Linked DNA regions of Homo sapiens. The protein of the gene in region 1 interacts with the protein of each later gene in a biochemical or structural test. Each region holds a gene or a part of one and is shown in the gene's direction. Other genes may lie near its edges.

What was found.
Region 2: of the proteins of ACAA1 (region 1) and HAT1, one has a biochemical effect on the other in vitro, tested with the Homo sapiens proteins (one study listed by BioGRID).

What each region holds. Positions count from the first base shown.
Region 1 is NC_000003.12:38,126,468-38,135,886, reverse strand, and holds part of ACAA1 (3-ketoacyl-CoA thiolase, peroxisomal), read left to right. Parts: intron 1-1,877; coding exon 1,878-1,935; intron 1,936-1,995; exon of another isoform or gene 1,996-2,396; intron 2,397-3,881; coding exon 3,882-3,961; intron 3,962-4,248; coding exon 4,249-4,291; intron 4,292-6,498; coding exon 6,499-6,597; intron 6,598-8,020; coding exon 8,021-8,101; intron 8,102-9,186; coding exon 9,187-9,377; exon of another isoform or gene 9,378-9,419. UniProt on the Homo sapiens protein: Responsible for the thiolytic cleavage of straight chain 3-keto fatty acyl-CoAs (3-oxoacyl-CoAs). Plays an important role in fatty acid peroxisomal beta-oxidation. Catalyzes the cleavage of short, medium, long, and very long straight chain 3-oxoacyl-CoAs.
Region 2 is NC_000002.12:171,915,714-171,927,932, forward strand, and holds the start of HAT1 (histone acetyltransferase type B catalytic subunit), read left to right. Parts: upstream 1-6,747; 5' UTR 6,748-6,787; coding exon 6,788-6,794; intron 6,795-7,208; exon of another isoform or gene 7,209-7,404; intron 7,405-9,823; coding exon 9,824-9,928; intron 9,929-12,219. UniProt on the Homo sapiens protein: Histone acetyltransferase that plays a role in different biological processes including cell cycle progression, glucose metabolism, histone production or DNA damage repair. Coordinates histone production and acetylation via H4 promoter binding.

The sequences.
Region 1 (9,419 bases):
AGCCCGACACCCGTAAAGGGTCTGTGCTGAGGAGTATTAGTAAAAGAGGAAGGCCTCTTTGCAGACACCCGTAAAGGGTCGGTGCTGAGGAGTATTAGTAAAAGAGGAAGGCCTCTTTGCAGTTGAGATAAGAGGAAAGCATCTGTCTCCTGCTTGTCCCTGGGAATGGAATGTCTTGGGTGTAAAACCCAACCATACATTCTATTTACTGAGATAGGAGAAAACCGCCTTATGGCTGCAGGTGAGACATGCTGGCGGCAATACTGCTCTTTACTGCACTGAGATGTTTGTGTAAAGTCAAACATAAATCTGGCCTATGTGCACATCCAGGCACAGCACCTTTCCTTAAACTTACTTATGACACTGAGTCCTTTGCTCACATTTTTTCCTGTTGACCCCCTCCCCACCATTACCTTATAGTAATGGTATATAATGCCACATCCCTCTTGCCAAGATAGTAGAGATAGTGATCAATAAATACTGAGGGAACTCAGAGACCAGTGCTGGTGTAGGTCCTCAATTGCTGAGCACCAGTCCCCTGGGCCCACTTTTCTTCCTCTATACTTTGTCTCTGTGTCATTTCTTTTCTCAGTTTCTCGTCTCCACCTTGCGAGAAATACCCACAGGTGTGGAGGGGCAGGCCCTCTTCAGGCAAAACGGGGTGAACAGGGTGATGGTGGGGAGAAGGTCAGCAGGAAAACATGTGAGTAAAGGAATCTGCATCATAAATAAGTTCAAGGGAAGGTACTGTGCTGAGATGTGCATGTAGGCTAGATTTTTGTTTCTCTTTACCCAGACATCTCAGTGTAGCAAAGAGTAACAGAGCAGTATTGCTGCCAGCATATTTCGCTTCCAGCCACAGGGCGGTTTTCTCCTATCTCAGTAAATAGAACCAATAGTCGGCTTTACACCGAGACATTCCGTTCCCAGGGATGTGCGGGAAATAGAGGCCTTCCTCTTTTACTAATCCTCCTCAGCACAGACCCTTTACAGGTGTCGGGCTGGGGGACAGTAAGGTCTTTCCCTTCCCACGAGGCCATATCTCAGGCTGTCTCAGTGGGGGGAAACCTTGGACAAATACCCAGGCTTTCTTGGGCAGAGGTCCCTGCGGCTTTCCACAGTGCATCATGTCCCTGGTTAATAGAGAATGGAGAATGACGATGACTTTTACCAAGCATACTGTCTGCAAACATATGTTGACAAGGCACATCCTGCACAGCCCTAAATCCCTTAAACCTTGATTCAATATAGCACATGTTTTTGTGAGCACAGAGTTGGGGCTAAAGTTACAGATTAACAGCATCTCAAAGCAGAAACAATTTTTCTTTGTACAGATCAACATGGAGTTTCTTATGTCTTCCTTTTCTACATACACACGGTAACAATCTGATCTTTCTTTTCCCCACAATCTTCAGTCCAGCCCTCTATTCCACCCCTCACCTTGAAATACAGCAATATGATATGGCAAGAGTCTTATCCAGCGGATGCCACCCCTAGGTCGGCAATCACTGTTCCACCTCTCTGGGGTGACAGCAGGGCTCACAGGAGGATACCTGGGGAGATGTGCATTTTCAGAAACTCCCATTTCACTTTTAAGGGCAGACAACCTGCCCATCTGTGCTGATTTGGAAAAGCTGGGTGCATGGGCAAGTGAGCGTGGGACCCTCAGGGACAGGAGCTGGTGGATGACCAGGACAAGCTGTTGTATGGCTGGCTCTCCCTGCCCCAAACCCTGATGTTCCAGAGTTGCAAGTGAGCCTGCCAAGGGCTAGTGTCCCGAAGAAAGATCTGGAATGCCTCATCTCTGGTTTTCACAGCTATACTTTAGTGCCCAGAACACCACCGCCTGGCACTGAATGAAAGTTTGTTGTCCACAGGAAATGTGCTGCAGCCTGGGGCCGGGGCAATCATGGCCCGAATCGCCCAGTTTCTGAGGTAAACTTTTCTAGTTCTAGCCATGGGTTGGCCATTTTGACACTTTACTGGGCCCAGGCCCCAGGAAACTCAGTGTGCAGGTTGGGGAGGATAAGGTTGGACACCAGAATGAGGCAACGAGAGTCCTTGGCTCCCTGCTCTTGTGGACTCAACCTCTCCCCTACTTTGAAGTGCTGAGCCACGATACACAAAACCTTTGGGACTGGAGCAGAAGTTCTCTGTAGCTTGATTTTTAGCCAAAGCCAGGTTGTCATTTGCCTTTTGTGAGTGTGGACTCTGTCCTCATTTGTCAGGTGAGTAATCAAGTAAGAATGCTGAAAAGTGACTTTCAGCCTTTTTACTAGTTGAGCTGAGAACTCCAGTCATATCCCACTAGCAGAGACTTTGGGATAGGGCAGAACCATGGGGAAGGAGGACCCTCAGGAGGAGACCTGGTCAACTTTCCTTTAAGCGCCTGCAGGGTAAAGAGTGCTTAAATTATTTTCATGTGTAGATTTAAGAACTGCTTGGCTTTGTACTTCTAGATGCATAAATAAATAAATAGGAACATTAGCTAGTGAAGGAACAGGAAAACAACCCTCTAGGAACTGGGAGAGGTTTAGACTGCCCAGCCTGTAGTTCAAGGCCCCCTACAATCTGGCTCCAGACTTACCTTCCAGCCTCATCTCCTAGCTGCTTACTCACCTTGACTTTTCTTCGTTCAGCCGGCTGTGGGCCTACTGTCTTCCCTGATATGGTCATTCTGTCTCCTTGAAGTGCTAGCCCTACCTCCTCTTTCTGCCCTAGACAGAAAGACAAACCCTGCCTAAACACAGTCTCACCATTTTGGCATGAGTTATCCAGGCTCTCAGGCTGAAATTGAGAGCCCCTTCCTCTCCAGCAGTAGCCATATACTTCCTTGTGATGTGGTTTGCCCTCTTGCCCTATTATTTCAGTCTCTGATAGTTGATTCATTTTCTGTGTGTTGGTTGGGCATCCTCTAGGGCACAGTGTTATAAGCATCGCAGCATCCCTCAGGTGATGCCTTGTGGTAAGTAGGTATTTAGTGAACACTTGGTGGATTGAGTGAAGGAATGGTAACTACCTGCTAGGGAGTTAAGGGACCCTGGAAGGGTCAAACAGGCTGCACAGGAGGCTATCCCCCTGAGAGAGTCTCTGCAGAGCCTGGCCTGGGCACTAGTTCAGAGGTTCCCAACTCTGGCTACACACCAGAATCACCAGGATGCTTCCACTCCCTCAGATTCTGAGTCTGTGGGTCTGAGGAGGTCTGGAAATTTCCCTAGGGCTTTGTACTGTTGGCCAAGGCAGGTTACATCAGGAGGGGAAGCCCTACTAGCTTCCAGGGCTAAGACCAGTATGAGAGTCTTGGGGAACCTACCAGAGCAATGGATGTTAGAATATATGATGCCCATCAGAGTGCTTCGTCTAGGTGGGATCAGGCTTTCAAGAGTCCATGGGAACATGCAGGGTTAGCTATATGATTACTGGTAAGGCCGAGTGGTCCCTGGCCTCAGACTTTAGGCATTTCTTTTGCTCTGGTGCTCTGTCCCAGCAGCAGTTCCTTTTCTCTGTTTTTTGGGGGAAACAGAGATACACAGTTTTCATTTCTGAATCTTCAAAGGGAGAGAGAGAGAAGGATCCCTGTGGCCCAAACAGGCTTCCCTTGCCTTTGGGCTGTGCTTGGTCTTTGATTGAAGATTCTCATAGGAGTAGAAGGGAATGTGCTTGTGGGGCCCTGGGGAGCAAGTGCCTGCAGAGATGGGGTCTGCCCAGTAGCTGCTCACCCCCATTCCATGGATCTGGCCTGGCATGGGAGCAGAGCTGCTGGGTTTGTTCCCCTGCCCTTTACATCCCTTGAGGGGGGCAGTTAGAAGCATAGGACTGCTTTCCATGAGAGCCTGGCATGGAATTGGGGGCTGATTCTACTTTCTCACCTTCTGTTTCAGTGACATCCCGGAGACTGTGCCTTTGTCCACTGTCAATAGACAGTGTTCGTCGGGGCTACAGGCAGTGGCCAGCATAGCAGGTAAGTTATGACTGGGTGGGTGCCTTGGTCCTGGACCTGTGGGTTTGGGTCAGCAAAGTCGCTGTCTGCCGGGCAAGCAATAATTACCATTTCTGAGGACTCTAACCACAGAAAGAGTGCAGGAGCGCCCCCTACCACTGCCCAAAGCCTTTTCTGAACACTCCTGGGTCTTCCATTTCTGAGGCTGGGGCTGAGTCCCATCTAGAGACCAGGTGGGGAAGAGGCTCCACTGCTTCCAGAACAGGTGGACTCTGGCAAAGGATGTTTATGAAATGCTTTTGTTACAGGTGGCATCAGAAATGGGTCTTATGACATTGGCATGGCCTGTGGGTAAGAATTTTTTTCTGCCGGAGCTTATTAACCAACTTGTGACAATAAAACTAATTTTCATCTGAGTTCTCAGAGGCCATGATTTCAGGATTCCCCCCATCCCCTTTAGGCAGCTGGCCACGAGTGGGTTCTCACAAATGCAGGTTAAGAGTGGCTACCAACTCTGGCTGCTCAGGAATCACTCACACCTCTCAGCACTAGCAGGGGAGGGGAATTGGCCTCTAAAAGCTTACTTTCTTGGAAATCTTTCAGGCTGGAAAAGGTGGGAAAACATTTTGAGAAAATCCAGCATTTGGGTTTCCTTTGGGGGCCCTTGTTGATTCATGATGCTGCTGAGAGAGAAGTTGCAGTTTGGGTTCCCTAAAGCCAGGGACAGCGCCTACTGTATAACTAGTTTGTTCATTTTACTAGGCTGTCTGTCCCTTTGTCTCCCCACCTTGGAACCAGTGTGGAAACTTCCAGCTGCTTATGGGCTATGAGGGACATAATTAGATCTGTGGTGGTTTGGTCACTGTCACCTTCACCTAGACTGTGGCTCCATCATTGGCTGCAGCAAATGGAGCTGCAGAAGTTGTATTTGGCAGTGCCTCCAGGGAAGGTCAGGGCACAGGTGCCCAGGCTTGGGTGGGCATCTGGTGCTGGGAGGGCAGGGGAGTAAGGTCTTTGGCAGGCTGGGGGAGGTGAGCAGCCCCAGGGTTCTGACATGCCTCCGCTGCCTTTCACATCCTCTTTAGGGTATTTCTTGAGAGGACGCATTGCTGGCCCCTGTCCCAGGGCTGTGGCAGCTGTCACTGAGTTGTAATGACCTATGTCTACAGTTGTAAATAAAGCCAAAGACCACTCTGCAAGGACTTTGGCTGGGCAAAGGCCACTGCCGTTTGATTTCTCTCATGCTCTTCTATCTTACTGGGTGAGAGGTGGCATGGATAACTTGAGAAGGGCTGGAGCTTTTATGAGTTTCTTAGAGAGTATCTGATTCCCAAGCAGGTTAAGGATGATGGTACTAGGATATTAAGATCTGGGCCAGGCCTGACACCCACATCACAGGCTGACTGTTCTCCATAGACTTTGATCAGCAAGTATTTAACACAGGGCACTCTAGTTGGAAGTGGGCTCTGGGACCAGACTACCTAAATGTGGATCCAGGCTGGGTCACCATGGATAAGTTATACAGTCTCTCTAGACCTCAGTCTCCTGATCTATAAAATGGGGATACCTAGCTCAGCTCTGTTGAAGTTGAGAAGAATAAATGGAGTAATAGCAACAGTTTACACTGTGGAGTATTTGTCTGTCATGTGACTGACACTGAAGCACTCTAATATCTCAAAAGAATTCAGAATAGTGCTGGGCACGTGAAAAGCACTCAGTCAAGGTTATCTGTTATCATCCCTTGAGGTGTTAGGGTCCCCCATGGCCTCAAAGCCCTTTTTTGACCACACTACACTGCCGTCTCCTTCCTCTCAGCTCGTAGCACTTCCTTGTCTATGCAGGTCTGAATGCCCTTTGAGCTCAGCTTTGTGGTTACTTTTATTTTTATTTTATTTATTTATGTTTTTGAGACAGAGTCTCGCTCTGTCGCCCAGGCTGGAGTGCAGTGACACGATCTCATCTCACTGCAAGTTCCGCCTCCTGGGTTTACGCCATTCTCCTGCCTCAGCCTCCCACCCTGGCGCCTGCCACCATGCCCGGCTAATGTTTTGTATTTTTAGTAGAGGCGGGGTTTCACCATGTTAGCCTCATGATCTGCCCGCCTTGGCCTCCCAAAGTGCTGGGATTACAGGCGTGAGCCACCACAGCCGGCCTGTGGTTACTTTCAAATTGTCTCTTCTCCCTTCTGAATTTGTGGGCCCTGAGGGCAGGCCCTGGCTTGTGGATGTGTTTCCTCCTCTGTGGCTGACAGCAGAAGGCTTTTCTCTGGAATTGCCAGTTGGCTGATTTAGCAGTGTATAGGGAAGCATAGCCCTGCCCCCAGGAGTGTTTATTGTGCAGTGCTCTGTCCTGGGGTGGGGGTCGAAATAGAGACAGGGCTCAGTACTCGTGGCTGGGCCTTGCTGGCCAAGTGCCCTGCCTGTGACTCCCAGAGGCCCACTGGTCTTCCTAGGGCTCCCTGGCTATTTCCTAGCACTTGCCAAGTGTTCAGCTATCTCTGGAGGAGTCCTGCTAGGGCCCAGTTCACCTTACCTTCTCCTCCTCTTCCTCCTCCCCAGGGTGGAGTCCATGTCCCTGGCTGACAGAGGGAACCCTGGAAATATTACTTCGCGCTTGATGGAGAAGGAGAAGGCCAGAGATTGCCTGATTCCTATGGGGTGAGTGCTCCCATAGCTCTGTGTGCTTGTGCCCTCTCTGCCTGGGGCAGGGAGCCAAGGAACTTTTATCATCTCTGTGGCTGGTGGTGCCAAGCCTTGGCCTCCTTCCTTTGGGCATGGTCTGCTCCGCAGGGACTTTGGGGATGAGACTTGATGTTGCCCTTGACTTCCATTTCCTGAAGGCCCCAGGTCCTCTCTGTGCCCCCGAGTTTCCAAACATCGCCCACCTTGTCACTCCCACACTGAGGTGCTCAGTCATAGGAAGGACAATGGTAGCTCCACTCCAAAGCCTTGGGGGCCTAGAAAGTTGAGAAGGCAGTGGGAAGCTTGTGACGACAGAACATGCTGGTGAGGGGAATTGGGCCCTGTCAGGTGCAACAAGAAAAGTATGTGGCATTTGGCCGGGTGCGATGGCTCATGCCTGTAATCCCAGCACTTTGGGAGGCCGAGATGGGTGGATCACAAGGTCAGGAGATCGAGACCATCCTGGCTAACACAGTGAAACCCTGTCTCTACTGAAAATACAAAAAATTAGCCGGGCGCGGTGGTGAGCGCCTGTAGTCCCAGCTACTTGGGAGGCTGAGGCAGGAAAATGGCATGAACCCAGGAGGCAGAGGTTGCAGTGAGCTGAGATCGTGCCACTGCACTCCAGCCTGGGTGACAGAGGGAGACTCTGTCTCAAAAAAGAAAAAAAGAAAAGTATGTGGCATTTGTATGGAACACTTTAGCTTCTCTGAGCCTCTGGGCCATCCCCAGGGTCTTTGGGCCAGGAGTCCTGGATCCACTAGACATATGAGGAGACTGAGGCTTGGAGAGGGGCAGTGCCATGGCTTCTTTCACATACTGTATCTCCAAGGGAAGCCTATAAAGCCAGAAGCCCAGGCTGGAAGGCCTAGCTGTGGCTCTAGGTTCTCAGGATAAGCATAGACCCCAGCCAAGGTGACCAGGAAGCTTAGGTTTGGCCTTTCCAGAGGAGATTTGGGAGTCCTCATCTCCCTACATTGCAGCAGTCTTCCTTGAGGCATAGGAGAAGCTGGCCAGGAGTAGCCAACTAGTGCCCCCACCCAGGCCCTCCCCTGCTCCTTTTCTACCCTGCGCTGAGGCAGCTCACCCAGGGAACAAACTCCTTTCTGCAACTGCCCCCATGCAGGCTGCCCTCTCTTGAAGAAAGTCTCTTTGGTGTATGAGCTTCTCAGGATCTGGCCAGCATTGCTGACTTCCCTATCTGTGCCTTTATATCCACTTTCAGGGCAGGCTGTACCATATCCTGAGTCATCACTACTGTCTGTGGCATGGACTGGCCCTTACATCCTGTCCTGCCTACAGCCTTGGGAACCCAAAGTTCCAAGCACAGCTCTACAGCCTGGTCCCTTCCTCTAGGCTGTCAGACCAATGCCCACACTATCTGCTGTTTGTGTTCTAGGATAACCTCTGAGAATGTGGCTGAGCGGTTTGGCATTTCACGGGAGAAGCAGGATACCTTTGCCCTGGCTTCCCAGCAGAAGTGAGTGCTGATTGGGGAGGAATGTTTAAAGGGCTGGAGAGTGAGGTTTTGAGTCTATCTAAGTGGTCTGAAGTGGCACCATTTCGTGGTTACTGCTGGGCAGTGAGTGCTTTCCAGGCCTTGTGCCACCCAGGTTGGGGGTGGGAAGTAGGAAGTGTCAGGGCCACTGTGAGTTGGTAGTACTTCCAGGTTCTATTACTGTCTGTTCACCCTGACTTTGCCCTAGCTAGGCCTCAGTTTCCCCCTCTGTTATTTTCTGGCTGCGGTTTGGGGACTGGACATTGTAGCCTGGAGTGTGGGGCCAGCAATGTTAGGGACTCTGGCATCCTAGCTTCTGGACCATGCTGGGTCTGTGGCAGCATCCTGAGGCAAGAACTGAGGACGATATCAGAGAAACCCCAGGGGCTCAGGCAGGCTAAGATTGGCAAGTCCCGGCTGTCCAGAGAGGAAAGCAAAAGCAGGGAGTGGTATCTGGGCCAGGTGGGCTTCCCTGAGGCAGTGATTCTTAGCCACTTTGGGTCACATAACCATTTGAAAATGTGTTAGAAGCCTTAGATTCCTTCCACTTGAATGTCCCTGGGCACTTACATGCTGCACATATTTGCAAGGGTCACCCTTAAATACCTTGTGCTTTAAAATTGCTTAAATACAAAAATACATGAGTAGTTTAGTATATGTCACTTTAAATAGGCGGAAACTGGGGAATAGATGACATCGAACTGTTGAGTTTGAGCAGAAAAGTTAGCAGAACCCAGCACAGATATTTCTGGGGTTCCATCCTCAGTTTAGCAGAGAGAATCAAGCAGGCTTAATCCCTCTTGGACAAAGGGCTCTAAGTGGAGGCACCACTTCCAAACACCCTTTCCCCCCTTTGAGGTTGGGATTGGCCACGATCTGGAGGTCTGGGGCTGATGGTGAAGAAGGCCCTGTAAGGCCTTAGCCATGCCCTCAGAGCTCCCCCAAAGTCGAGCATGTCCCTGAATTTAGCAGCCTGAGCTTGTGTCTACCCAAATGGATAGGGGTTGGGGGCAGGGAGGAAGGGAACCCCAAGGGAGTCTGAAGCTGGCTGTCCATGGTGCTGGCAGGGCAGCAAGAGCCCAGAGCAAGGGCTGTTTCCAAGCTGAGATTGTGCCTGTGACCACCACGGTCCATGATGACAAGGGCACCAAGAGGAGCATCACTGTGACCCAGGATGAGGGTATCCGCCCCAGCACCACCATGGAGGGCCTGGCCAAACTGAAGCCTGCCTTCAAGAAAGATGGTTCTACCACAGCTGGTGAGACTGGTCCGGGGTAGGGGTATGAGAAAGCAGGCCATG
Region 2 (12,219 bases), on another chromosome or scaffold:
TGTCATGTGATGCCAGTCAGTATGACTTTCTTCCTCTTAATTCATTCAACTGACTGGCAAAGGGACTGGCCCTGTGTTTATGCGATTAATGAAGTTAACCTTAAAGTCTGGATCCCCCTAGAAAATTTTTGAAAAAAATCTCTTTAATTTTCACTAACTTGCACAGTGGTTGATTTAGCTTGTTGACTTCATATAGTCCCTCAAAACTCCAATTTGTAAAAAGAATTAGAGAAAACACTACCATAAAACTAAACTTTATTTTTATTCTTTTAAGGTTTATGAACTAAACACTGAACTAGCACCATTATACAGTTGGTATAAACCTTGTTACTTTGTGTGTCCACATCATGGGAAGTTAAAACTCCTGCTGTACATAGTGATATAGGTAAATAGGTTACAAAGGAGTTGACTGAAAACCAACCTATTAAAATGACAGATTTCACAACAAGGTGAATATATTCTTAATATTACTGAACTATAAACTTAAAAATAGTTAACATGGTAAGTTATATGTTATGTGTTTTTTTACATTAAAAGAAAGACAATGGCCTGGTGCGGTGGCTCACACCTGTAATCCCAGCACTTTGGGACAGAGGCGACAGAGTGAGACTCCGTCTCAAAAAAAAAAAAAATAATAATAATAATACTTAAAATAGCATTTTAATGATAGAATGTATAATATCACAGTTATTATTGTATTACCTACCAAAAGTAGACAAATACATAATTAATGCCATTCTAATAAATTAGTTTCCAAAAGTAAAGCAGGCATCACTGGACAGTCATTTTGAAAACAGGTATAAATAATTATAGTGCTTGTTATTTTGGCCAATCTTTGCTTGTAAATAATGACAAAATGCAAAATGGAAAATATTAGTTTTCAACTAATTGTTCCTAGTTTTGATTAAATTGCTTCCCTTAGAGTCTGTGTACCATAATACGTCGAATGTAGAGAAGAGGATAGGGAGTTAGCAACCATGTCTAAAAACCTCCAAAAAGATGGATAAGTTTCTCTTTTTTTTTTTTTTTTGAGACGGAATTTTGCTCTAGTTACCCAGGCTGGAGTGCAATGGCGTGATCTTGGCTCACCGCAACCTCTGCCTCCCGGGTTCAAGTGATTCTCCTGCCTCAGCCTCCCGAGTAGCTGGGATTACAGGCATGCACCACCACACCCGGCTAATTCTGTATTTTTCTTTGAGACGGGATTTCTCCATGTTGGTCAAGCTGGTCTCCAACTCCGGACCTCAGGCGATCTGCCCACCTTGGCCTCCCAAAGTGCTGGGATTATAGGTGTGAGCCACCACGCGCAGCCAGATGGATAAGTTTCTAACTGTGAAAGAAACCAATACATCATCATTGAAAGAGACAAATGGTATTAAAGAATAAAAAAACTCATTAGGCTGGGCGCGGTGGCTCACGCCTATAATCCCAGCACTTTGGGAGGCCAAGGAGGCAGATCACTTGAGGTCAGGAGTTCCAGAACAGCCTGGCCAACATGGTGAAACCCTAAAATTACAAAAATTAGCTGGGTGTGGTGGCGGATGCTCACTGTAGCCCCAGCTACTCGGGAGGCTAAGGCAGGAGAATTGCTTGAACCTAGGAGGTGGAGATTGCAGTGAGCCGAGATCATGCCACTACACTCCAGCCTGGGCAGACTCTGTCTCCAAAACAAAAACAAAAACAAAAAACCTCATTAATCCCCATCTCTAAATTCCCCCTAAAGGCAACTATAGTTAAGTTTGTGAGGTATGCTTTCAGATGTTTTCTGTTTATATCAAAATATATTTTTATATAAATGAAATAACATTATATTTTTTGTAATTTATTTTTTAGCCTATTGTATAGGAGATAGAACATATTAGCCAGCCCCTTGTGCTAGTAGTTTAGGCTATTTTCAACTTGCCAGTGAAAATAATACAGCATTGAACATCTTTGTTTTAGTGTATCTTTGCATTTCTGTGAAATAGTTTTGCAGTACAAATGCTTAAAAGTGGAACTGTTGTTGCCTCAAAGGATACACAAATTGAAAATTTTGTTACATTTGTAAAAATGTGTTAAAATTTCTAAATTGCCCCTCAAAAGTTACTAATTTATACACGTATGGGTAGTACATTAGAGTTGGAAAATAAAGACTGTTGGTAATTTTTGTGTATTTAGGATAGGGGTCCTCTTACAGTAGTTTTCAACATGAGCCGGTCCATTTTTATTTTCTTTCTTTCCTTTTTTTTTTTTTCTTGAGACAGACTCGCTCTGTCGCCCAGGCTGGAGTGCAATGGCGGGATCTCGGCTCACTGCAACCTCCGTCTCCCGGGCTCAAGCAATTCTCCTGCCTCAGCCTCCTGAGTAGCTGGAATTACGGGTGTATGCCACCACACCCGGTTAATTTTTGTATTTTCAGTAGAGATGGAGTTTCACCATGTTGGCCAGGCTGGTCTCGAACTCCTGACTTCATGTGATTTGCCTGCCTCGGCCTCCCAAAGTGCTGGGATCACAGACGTGAGCCACCGCGCCCAGCCTATTTTCTTTCTTGTATCCCATTTGGAAGTCATCTAGCTGGATAATGGTTTCTGGATAATTGCTCTGGGAACTGAGACTCATAACTTTATGCTCATTAGCACTACGAGCTAAAAAAATGAGCTAACTAACTACTGTTATTTGTCTGTGTAAAGGTATGCATTTTGAAATGAAGACACATTACATACATGCATTTTTCTTAAAATTGATTTCCTGCATCAATTTTCTGATGACCATATATATATATATATATTTTGAGACGGAGTCTGTCTCCCAGGCTGGAGTACAGTGGCATGATCTCGGCTCACTGCAAGCTCCGCCTCCTGGGTGCATGCCATTCTCCTGCCTCAGCCTCCCAAGTAGCTGGGACTACAGGCGCCCGCCACCACGCCTGGCTAATTTTTTGTGTTTTTAGTAGAGACGGGGTTTCACCGTGTTAGCCAGGATGCTGTCGATCTCCTAACCTCGTGATCTGCCTGCCTCGGCCTCCCAAAGTGCTGGGATTACAGGCATGAGCCACTGCGCCCGGCCCGATGACCATATTTTTTTGTGCCAAATTTTAATCCATTCTGGAGGTTTCAAAGCAAGATAGTGAAGTTTATCAGTCCATATGAACTTGAGCCTGTACCAACACATGGTTGCCAGTTCATACCTAATAGTGTAATATGGCCCTTTTCTCTGAAGAAAATGCCTTTTCCAAATCTCCCTTACTAGAATAAATGTTATCATAGTAATACCACTTCATACCTGCATAGAGTTTTAGAGTTTACAAAGGTCGTTCACAAATATTATTCCGTTTAGTTTTTACAGCAACCCAGTGTGGTGACTGGGCAGTACTATTATCTCCACTTAATAGATGCAACAAGGTTGAACAAGCATGAAGTAGTAGAACTGGGACTAGTAGGGCAGTAAACTTCCCACAAGATATGTTGTCTCTTCCATATATATATGAGGATAGCATATTCCTTTCATAGAAATTTTATTCCATGATTGTAATAGTTGCTTTCTTAAATTCTCTTTAGAACAAAGTAAAATATAAGTTAAAAAAGGAAAGAAATCCCTACAAAAAAAAAGAGAATTTTTTTCCTTTTGGGTAATTTTCACATTACCTTTCCAAAATAAGTCATTCTTTTATCTTTTAGGTAAACTGTACCAAAACATCTATTCTGTAACATTAAAAAAAAAAAATGTGAGGATGGACATGGTGGCTCACACCTATTATCCTAGCATTCCGGGAGGCCAAGCTGAGAGGATTGCTTGAGGCCAGGAGTTTGGGACCAGCCTGGGCAACATACTGAGACTCCATTTCTACAAAAAACAAAAAAATTAGCTGTGCACAATGGCACACATTTGTAGTCCTGGCTATTTGGGAGGCTGAGAGGCAGGAGGATCTTTTGAGCCCAGCAGTTGGAGGCTGGAGGCTGTAGTGAGCTATGATTGCATCATTGCAATCCAGCCTGGGTGAGAGTGAGACCCTGTCTCAAAAAAAAAAAAAAAAAAAAAAGTGAACATCTAAGACGAGGACAATATAAAACCTCAATTCTGCAAGCAAATCACATTAAATGCTAGTCATACAATATATCAGTAAGTTTCATCATATTTTTTTCCTACAACTAACCATAATATCACAGGACTAATAATCTGTGATATACCACAGTTAAAACGTAATTCTTCTTGATTTCTTACTTATAAAGATCATAATTGCTGGTCAGCAATTGATCCATAGATAAGGTGATTTTGGAAAGAAATGATAAGTCTTGCCATTTTGAAAAGAAAAGTTTTTTTTTTTTTTTGAGATGGAGTCTCGCTCTCTTGAGCAGGCTGGAGTGCAGTGGCACTATCTCAGCTCACTGCAACCTCCGCCTCCTGGGTTCAAGCGATTCTACTGCCTCAGCCTCCCAAGTAGTTGAGATTACAGGCTCATGTCACCACGCCTGGTTAATTTATTGTACTTTTTAGTAGAGACAGGGTTTTACCATGTTGGCCAGGCTGGTCTCAAACTCCTGACCTCAGGTGATCTGCCTGCCTTGGCCTCCCAAGTGCTGGGATTACAGGTGTGAGCCACCGTGCCTAGCCAAAAATGATTATTAAAGAAAAAGATTGTTTTCCTTTTTTGATCCATAATGTCATTAGTCTCATTGATTTCAGTTTTCTGTCTTAACATTATGACTGTAATTTCTTTTTTTTTTTTTGAGACGGGGTCTCGCTCTTGCCCAGGCTGGAGTGCAGTGGCGGGATCTCGGCTCACTGCAAGCTCCGCCTTCCAGGTTCACGCCATTCTCCTGCCTCAGCCTCCTGAGTAGCTGGGACTGCAGGCACCCGCTACCACGCCCGGCTACTTTTTTTGTATTTTTAGTAGAGACAGGGTTTCACCATGTTAGTCAGGATGGTCTGGATCTCCTGATCTCGTGATCCGCCCGCCTCGGCATCACAAAGTGCTGGGATTACAGGCGTGAGCCACCACGCCCGGCCTATGACTGTAATTTCTTGTGTATCATTAGGTTTCAAGAAAAAGGATCTTGAAACCTTTTCTTGGGATCACGACTGTAATCCCAGCACTTTTGGAGGCCGAGATGGGCAGATCATCTGAGGTTGGGAGTTCGAGATCAGCCTAACCAACATGGAGAAACCCCGTCTCTACAAAAATACAAAATTGCTGGGTGTGGTGGCGCATGCCTGTAATCCCAGCGACTCAGGAGGCTGAGGCAGAAGAATCGCTTGAACCCGGGAGGCGGAGGCTGTGGTGAGCTGAGATTGTGCCATTGCACTCCAGCCTGGGCAACAAGAGTGAAACTCCGTCTAAAAAAAAAAAAAAAAAAAAGAAAGAAAAAGGATCTGGGCATTCTCAGTACCTTTTCTGATCTTTATCTTCAGGAAAGCCATCTCTATATAGTTGAGCAAATAAATACTGGGCTGAGTATCTGATGAACTGCACTCTGCATAGGTTGCATACTGAGAATGAACTTGGGCAGTTTATCTTTTCTGGGCTTTGGTTTCCTCATCTCTAAAATGAGAGGGCGTGTTAGTTCTAGACCATCATCCCAAGGGTCCATTTTAGCTTTAGCGTGCATCACTGTAAAACCTGTTAACAAATATTTGTTGAGATAAGGAATTCTGGTGTATAGCCAACATTGTGGGAATATTTGTGGATACCTAAATAGTGGTTTATCCTCTGGGGAAAGCAGTTCCTACAGCTACTAAATACTAACAAGGCCTATGGCTAAAATCAGGTAGCACCTTGTGATGTAATTCAAACCACTAGGACATGTGGCATGCAAGACTACATCAGGCTACTTGAGGTATTTATTAGGTAACAATTTTTTTTTTTTTTTGAGACGGAGTCTCACTCTGTTGCCCAGGCTGGAGTGTAGTGGCGCAATCTCGGCTCACTGCAACTTTCGCCTCCAGGGTTCAAGCGATTCTCCTGCCTCAGCCTCCCGAGTAGCTGGGATTACAGGCGCCTGCCACCATGCCTGGCTAATTTTTGTATTTTTAGTAGAGACGGGGTTTCACTATGTTGGCTACACTGGTCTCGAACTCCTGAGCTCAGGCAATCTACCCGCCTCGGCCTCCCAAAGTGCTGGGATTATAGGCGTGAGCCACCGCGCCCGGCCTAGGTAACGATTTTTGCGCGCTAAACGGTTCTTAGTAACCTGCAGAGTGAAAGCAGAGTACCTAAATATCATACTGTATACGTTAAAAACAGGGGAGAAAGGAAAAAAGGTGTTAAAGTTTACAGCAAAATGAGAAACAAATGAGGAAAACAAGTGAAAGCTTCTCCCGCAACTGAAACTCAACCTCTACATTTTACCTAGGTAAAATGGTAAAATTGCCCACAGGGCTCAGGTGTTTGGATGCACTGTCCAGGCCAAGAGGAAAGATTTTCAGCCAGTCTCCAAAACATCTCAGGGACGGGTATGGAAAACAGGCGTAAAGTGTCTGTATTGATCAAATCAACCCCAGAGAAACTTTCCTAGGGCCAGAGAGCATCTCAACCGCGAAAGTCCGTTTGCGGCCTCCTTCTCCACTTCAGGCCTGCAAAGCGGCTGACGGCATTCGCAGTGGCTAGGCAACGGCCCGCGCAGACTTCTCGGCGTTAGCCCCGCCTCTTGAGGCGCTTCCGCCGCCGGGCTCCTGGACACGCCTCCTTTAATTGGCTAACGTCACGCTGGGAGTGGGCGGGGAAAATATGTCAGACTGTGCGGTCACTTCCGGCCCGGGAGCGCGCGGGTTGATTCGTCCTTCCTCAGCCGCGGGTGATCGTAGCTCGGAAATGGCGGGTAAGTTACCGGGAAAAGTTTACCAAGGGGAGGAGGCGGCCAGATCGGGGATAGAACGCCGAGACGGTGGTGACAATGCCCGCCTAGAACTTTCGGGCTGTAGCCTGGGTTCCAGAAGGCCTGCTTGGGACCGGAAGCGCGGAACTCTCAGCCCAGCAGCTCCTTGTTGGCGGCGGTCCGCGCCCCCGCCCCCAACTGCTTGGGGTTCTGCGCCTTCTGCCAGCAATCCGGCCCCTACCGAGGGCCGAAGACGCCAGGGAAAAGCGTCATGATTTGGGCTCGTAAAATGCCACATGCCTTGGGGCCTGTTTCTCTTCCCATTCCTTTTGTCCACTGCTGCTTGCTTCAGCTCTTGTACATCTGGTCCTGTTCCCGCCAGCTGATTTTAATGCTCAGATCCTCCTCCTCTTCCAGGTCTCCGTCTACCTTCCACTACAGTCAACTTCTGAGCTAGCGCATTGCTGCCTTGCCCTGCTCTGGCGCTCCCACTTGGATCTCGACTGACTTCGTAGTCGTCTCGTTAATCTGTCACACTTTAGTATTCCGAGGATCGTATTTAGATGCCCTTTGAGAAAGACTTTGTTCCTGAACTGCTCCCTTCTCTTTTAGGGTTGGACTACTATAATACAATTCTCTTGTGTACATTCTAGAGACCCTTCAAGTTACAACATTTAATAATGTATAATTGCTATTACTTTGTACGTGTATTAAGGCTGTTTTGGTGTGATTATTTTTTTCGATTACTTATCTTTTGAAGTTATGGACAGTTTCTTTTTCCTGAGACAGGGTCTCTCTGTCGCCCAGGCTGGAGTGCAGCGATCATAGTTCCGGGCAGCTTCCAACTCCTCGTAGGCTCAAGCGATCCTCTTGCCTCAGCCTCCCGAGTAGCTAGGACTACAGGCATGCGCCACAACATTCGGCTAAAAAAAAACAATTTTTTTTAACCTTTTAGAGACAGAGTCTGGCTGTATTGCCTCAGGCCGGTCTGGAACTCTTGGCCTCAAGCCATCCTCTCGCCTCAGCTTCCCAAAGTGTTGGAATGACAGGATTGAGCCACTTCGCTGGCCTTTGTTGCTTTTATCATCTCTTTACAGGGCATTCCTCATAGTCTCTCTACATTAACCATTCCATTTTTATGAATATGTGGGATAGACAAGCTGTTGTGTGAGCTCTACAGATGTTTAAAGAAGGACTTTTCTACCAGATGGAGATTGTAGGATCTTGAAGTACCACAGAAGAGGGAGGACGTACTCTAAGAATTACATCTAAATTCGAATTTTGGGCCCATCATTTAGTAGTTGGATGCCCTTCAACTAAACCTCTTTCTAAGCCTGAACTTTTGAATGTAAAATGGGGTTGATGTAATACCTACTTATAGAATTGTGCAGATTGAGCTAATATATGATTTCACAGGTTAAATTTTGTTGCTTACATTCCTCGAAGTAAATTCTGTAATCTCGGTTCTGTAGATTAGGGTCAGAGGGGTTAAGTAATGTGCTCTAGTTCCCTGAGCTTACTAGCTCAGTAAGTGTGTGAAATAGTCAGAATCCAGGAATTCTCACTCCAGACTATTAATCTGTACTGCTTCAAGTCTTTCCCATTTTCTGTGTGTGTGTTTTAACCCCTTTTTGAAGTTTATAGCACATCATTGTACCCCTTTTTATTTTTTGCTTATGGCTTTTTTCTGTCTGAATTTTTACTGATTTTTTTTTTTTTTGGAGACTGAGTCTCGCTCTGTCACCAGGCTGGAGTGCAGTGGCGCGATCTCGGCAACCTTTGCCTTCTGGATTCAAGCAATTCTGCCTCAGCCTCCGGAGTAGCTAGGACTACAGTCACGCGCCACCACGTCCAGCTAATTTTTGTATTTTTAGTGGAGATGGGGTTTCACCATGTTGGCCAGGATGATATCCGTCTCGACCTCGCGATCCCCCTGCCTCGGCCTCCCAAAGTGCTGAAATTACAGGCGTGAGCCACCGCGCCCAGCCCATTTTTACTAATCATATGCCCATTTTGTCAGGAGATTTGTTATCTTGAAAGTTTCTCTTGATAGTGATATCTTCCAATGTTATTTATTATGTATATTATTGAGTAGCCACTATGTAGTAAAACTATTGTGCCAGTAGCTCACAGTTTATGACTTTAGGCATACATGATTTTTAAATATTTAATACAGTGGAAAGATGTTTTCTTTGTGCCCCTGTTCCTCTTCCTTCTTTCTTTACCCATGGTAACTATGGTTACCAGATATTTGTGTATTCTTCTTGAGACATTCCATGCATTATCATTTCCTTATCTGAAGCACTCTGGTAGACTTTTTCCAATACTTAAAATGAAATTCTGTCATAATTATCAGAGGACATTCTCATTTTGCTTTTTACATCTTATAATGAAAAAGACGACTTAGGTATAAATCCTAGCAGGTAATTTGTATTAGTACATGTTCAGAAATGTTAGTAATCTATCATGTTAATTTTCAGGTTTATTCATTTATATTAAGTATTCCTAGTTTATAAGCCTGTATCTCAAAAGTGATTTCTTTTTCTGTTTTGTAATGAGGCATTCTTTTTTTTTTTTTTTTTTTTTGAGATGGAGTCTTGCTCTGTCGCCCAGGCTAGAGGGCAGTGGCATGATCTCGGCTCACTGCACCCTCTGCCTCCTGGGTTCAAGAGATTCTCCTGCCTCAGCCTCCCAAGTAGCTGGGATTACAGGCGCCCGTCACCGTGCCCGGCTAATTTTTGTATTTTTAGTAGAGACGGGTTTCACCATCTTGGCGAGGCTGACCTCGAACTCCTGACCTTGTGATCCACCCACCTCAGCCTCCCAGAGTGCTGGGATTACAGGCGTGAGCCACCGTGCCCAGCTGGCATTCTTAATACATTTATTTAAGAGTATGTGGAGAATGACTTGTGCTTTTATGATCTATCAGCATGTTTTAAATCATACCCCTATTCCACTTATAATAACCCTATTGCAGGTTTGACAATTTAAGTCACTTCCAAACTAAACCTTTTAAAAACCTTTTCTCTTAGGATTTGGTGCTATGGAGAAATTTTTGGTAGAATATAAGAGTGCAGTGGAGAAGAAACTGGCAGAGTACAAATGTAACACCAACACAGCAATTGAACTAAAATTAGGTATGTATGCCATTTCTAAGTGATGTTATGTACATACTGTGTGTGTATATATAATCTTTCATTTTAAATTTGAAGTAAAATTTTATGTAAGAGCAGTTATTTATGCAAATGTATGGTTTTCTGCATTTATTGAACATATTCAGATTTTATTCAGTTTTGATTTATGTCATGGAAGGTGTAGATGTTTGAAAGGTGACAGAATTTTATATAAAAAGGAAAGACGGTGGGGCAAAAAGTAATAAGTATATATAGTTTTAGCCTCTTAAAAATATTTTTTACTTTTTTGCCTGTAAGAATAATAAACAATAGCAAATATTGGTGAGGATGTGGAAAAAAACACTTGTATATTGCTGGTGGGAATGTAAAGTGATATAACTATTTTGGAAAACAGTTTGGCAATTTTCTTTTCTGTCTTTTTTATTTTCTTTCCTTCCTTCTCTTCTTTCATTTCCTCCCCTCACCCCTTTTTTTTCTTTCTTTCTTTTTTAAAGAGACAAGGAAGGTCTCACTCTATCACCCAGGCTGTAGTGCCACGGCATGGTCATAGCTCACTGCTGCCTCCAACCCCTGGGCTCAGGCAGTCCTTCTGCCTCAGCCTGCCAGGTAGCTAGGAGACCACAGGTGTGCACCACCCAAGCCTGGCTAATTTTTATAAAAAATTTTTTTTTTGAGACGGAGTTTCACTCTTGTTGCCCAGGCTGGAGTGCAATGGCGTGATCCTGGCTCACTGCAACCTCCACCTCCTGGGTTCTAGTGATTCTCCTGCCTCAGCCTCCCGTGTAGCTGGGATTACAGGCATGCGCCACCACGCCCGGCTAATTTTTTGTATTTTTAGTAGAGACGGTTTCTCCATGTTGGTCAGGCTGGTCTTGAACTCCCAACCTCTGGTGATCTGCCCACCTTGGCCTCCCAAAGTGCTGGGATTACAGGCATGAGCCACCACGCCTGGCTTATAAAAATTTTTTCATAGAGATGGACCCTACGTGTCTATGTGTCCAGGCTCATCTTGAACTCTTGTCTTCAAGCAGTCCCCTGGCTTGGCCTCCCAAAGTGTTGGGATTATAACTGTGAGCCACAGCGCCCCTCCTGGTTTGACAGTTTCTTAAGAAGTTAAACATAAATGAATTATATGACCCAGGAGTTATACTGCCAGGTATCTGTCTACTCAAGAGAAATGAAAATGTATGTTCACGCAAAAACTTGTACATGAATGTTCATAGCTGCGTTATTCACAGTAGCCAAAAAAATGTAAGAAACCCAGATATATATCAGCTGGTAAATGAATAAAGTATAGTATAGCTATACCACGGAATACTATTTGACAATAAGAAGGAATGAAATTCTGATACCTATTGCAGTAAACCTTAAAAAGATTGTGCTAAGTGAAAGAAACTAAACAAAAACACCATATATTGTGTAATTCCATTTGTATGAAATGTTCAGAAAAGACACATCCATAGAGACAGAAAGTAGTGGTTGCACAGTGGAGCGCAGAGTAACTACAAATGGGCCTGACATTTCTTTTGGGAATTATGGAAATGTTTGAAAGTTAGATTGTGGCACAGCTCTGAATTTGCTAAAATTTTACACTTAGAACAAGTGAAAAATAATATATGCTCATGATTCCTGGTTGCATTACTTTCCATGCCTGAGTTTCCTCATTGTTAATAGTACTTCACAGTGGTTACAAAGATTAAATATGGAGTTAAATATCAGTAAAGTGTTTAAACTCCTTGACATGCAGAAAATACTTGGTAAGGGCTGAGTGGAGTGACTGGATGTGGTTGCTGAGATCTGCGTATTTTTTTTACATGTCCCCTCATTTTTCAATTACTTCATTCTTTGATAGTTTGATTACCTTGGAACATCCTGTCATCTGTTGTCTCTGCCCCAGCCTTGGAATCAGCCATTTCTCCAAGGATCCCTGGTTTCTTTTAGTAGGAAATGTTATTTTATTTTATTTTAGAGACAGAGTCTCACTCAGTCGCCCAGGTAGAGTGCAGTGGTGCGATCTTGGTTCACTGCAACCTCTGCCTCCCAGATTCAAGTAATTCTTGTGCCTCAGCCTCCGTAGTAGCTGGGATTACAGGCATGTGCCACCAGCCCTGGGTAATTTTTTTGTGTTTTTAGTAGAGATAGGGTTTCGCCATGTTGGTCAGTCTGTCTCAAACTGACCAAGTGATCCACCTGCCTCGGTCTCCCAAAGTGCTGGAATTACAGGCATGAGCTACTGCACCCAGCCAGGAAATGGTTTTTTATTTTGAGATGGAGTCTCACTCTTGTCACCCAGG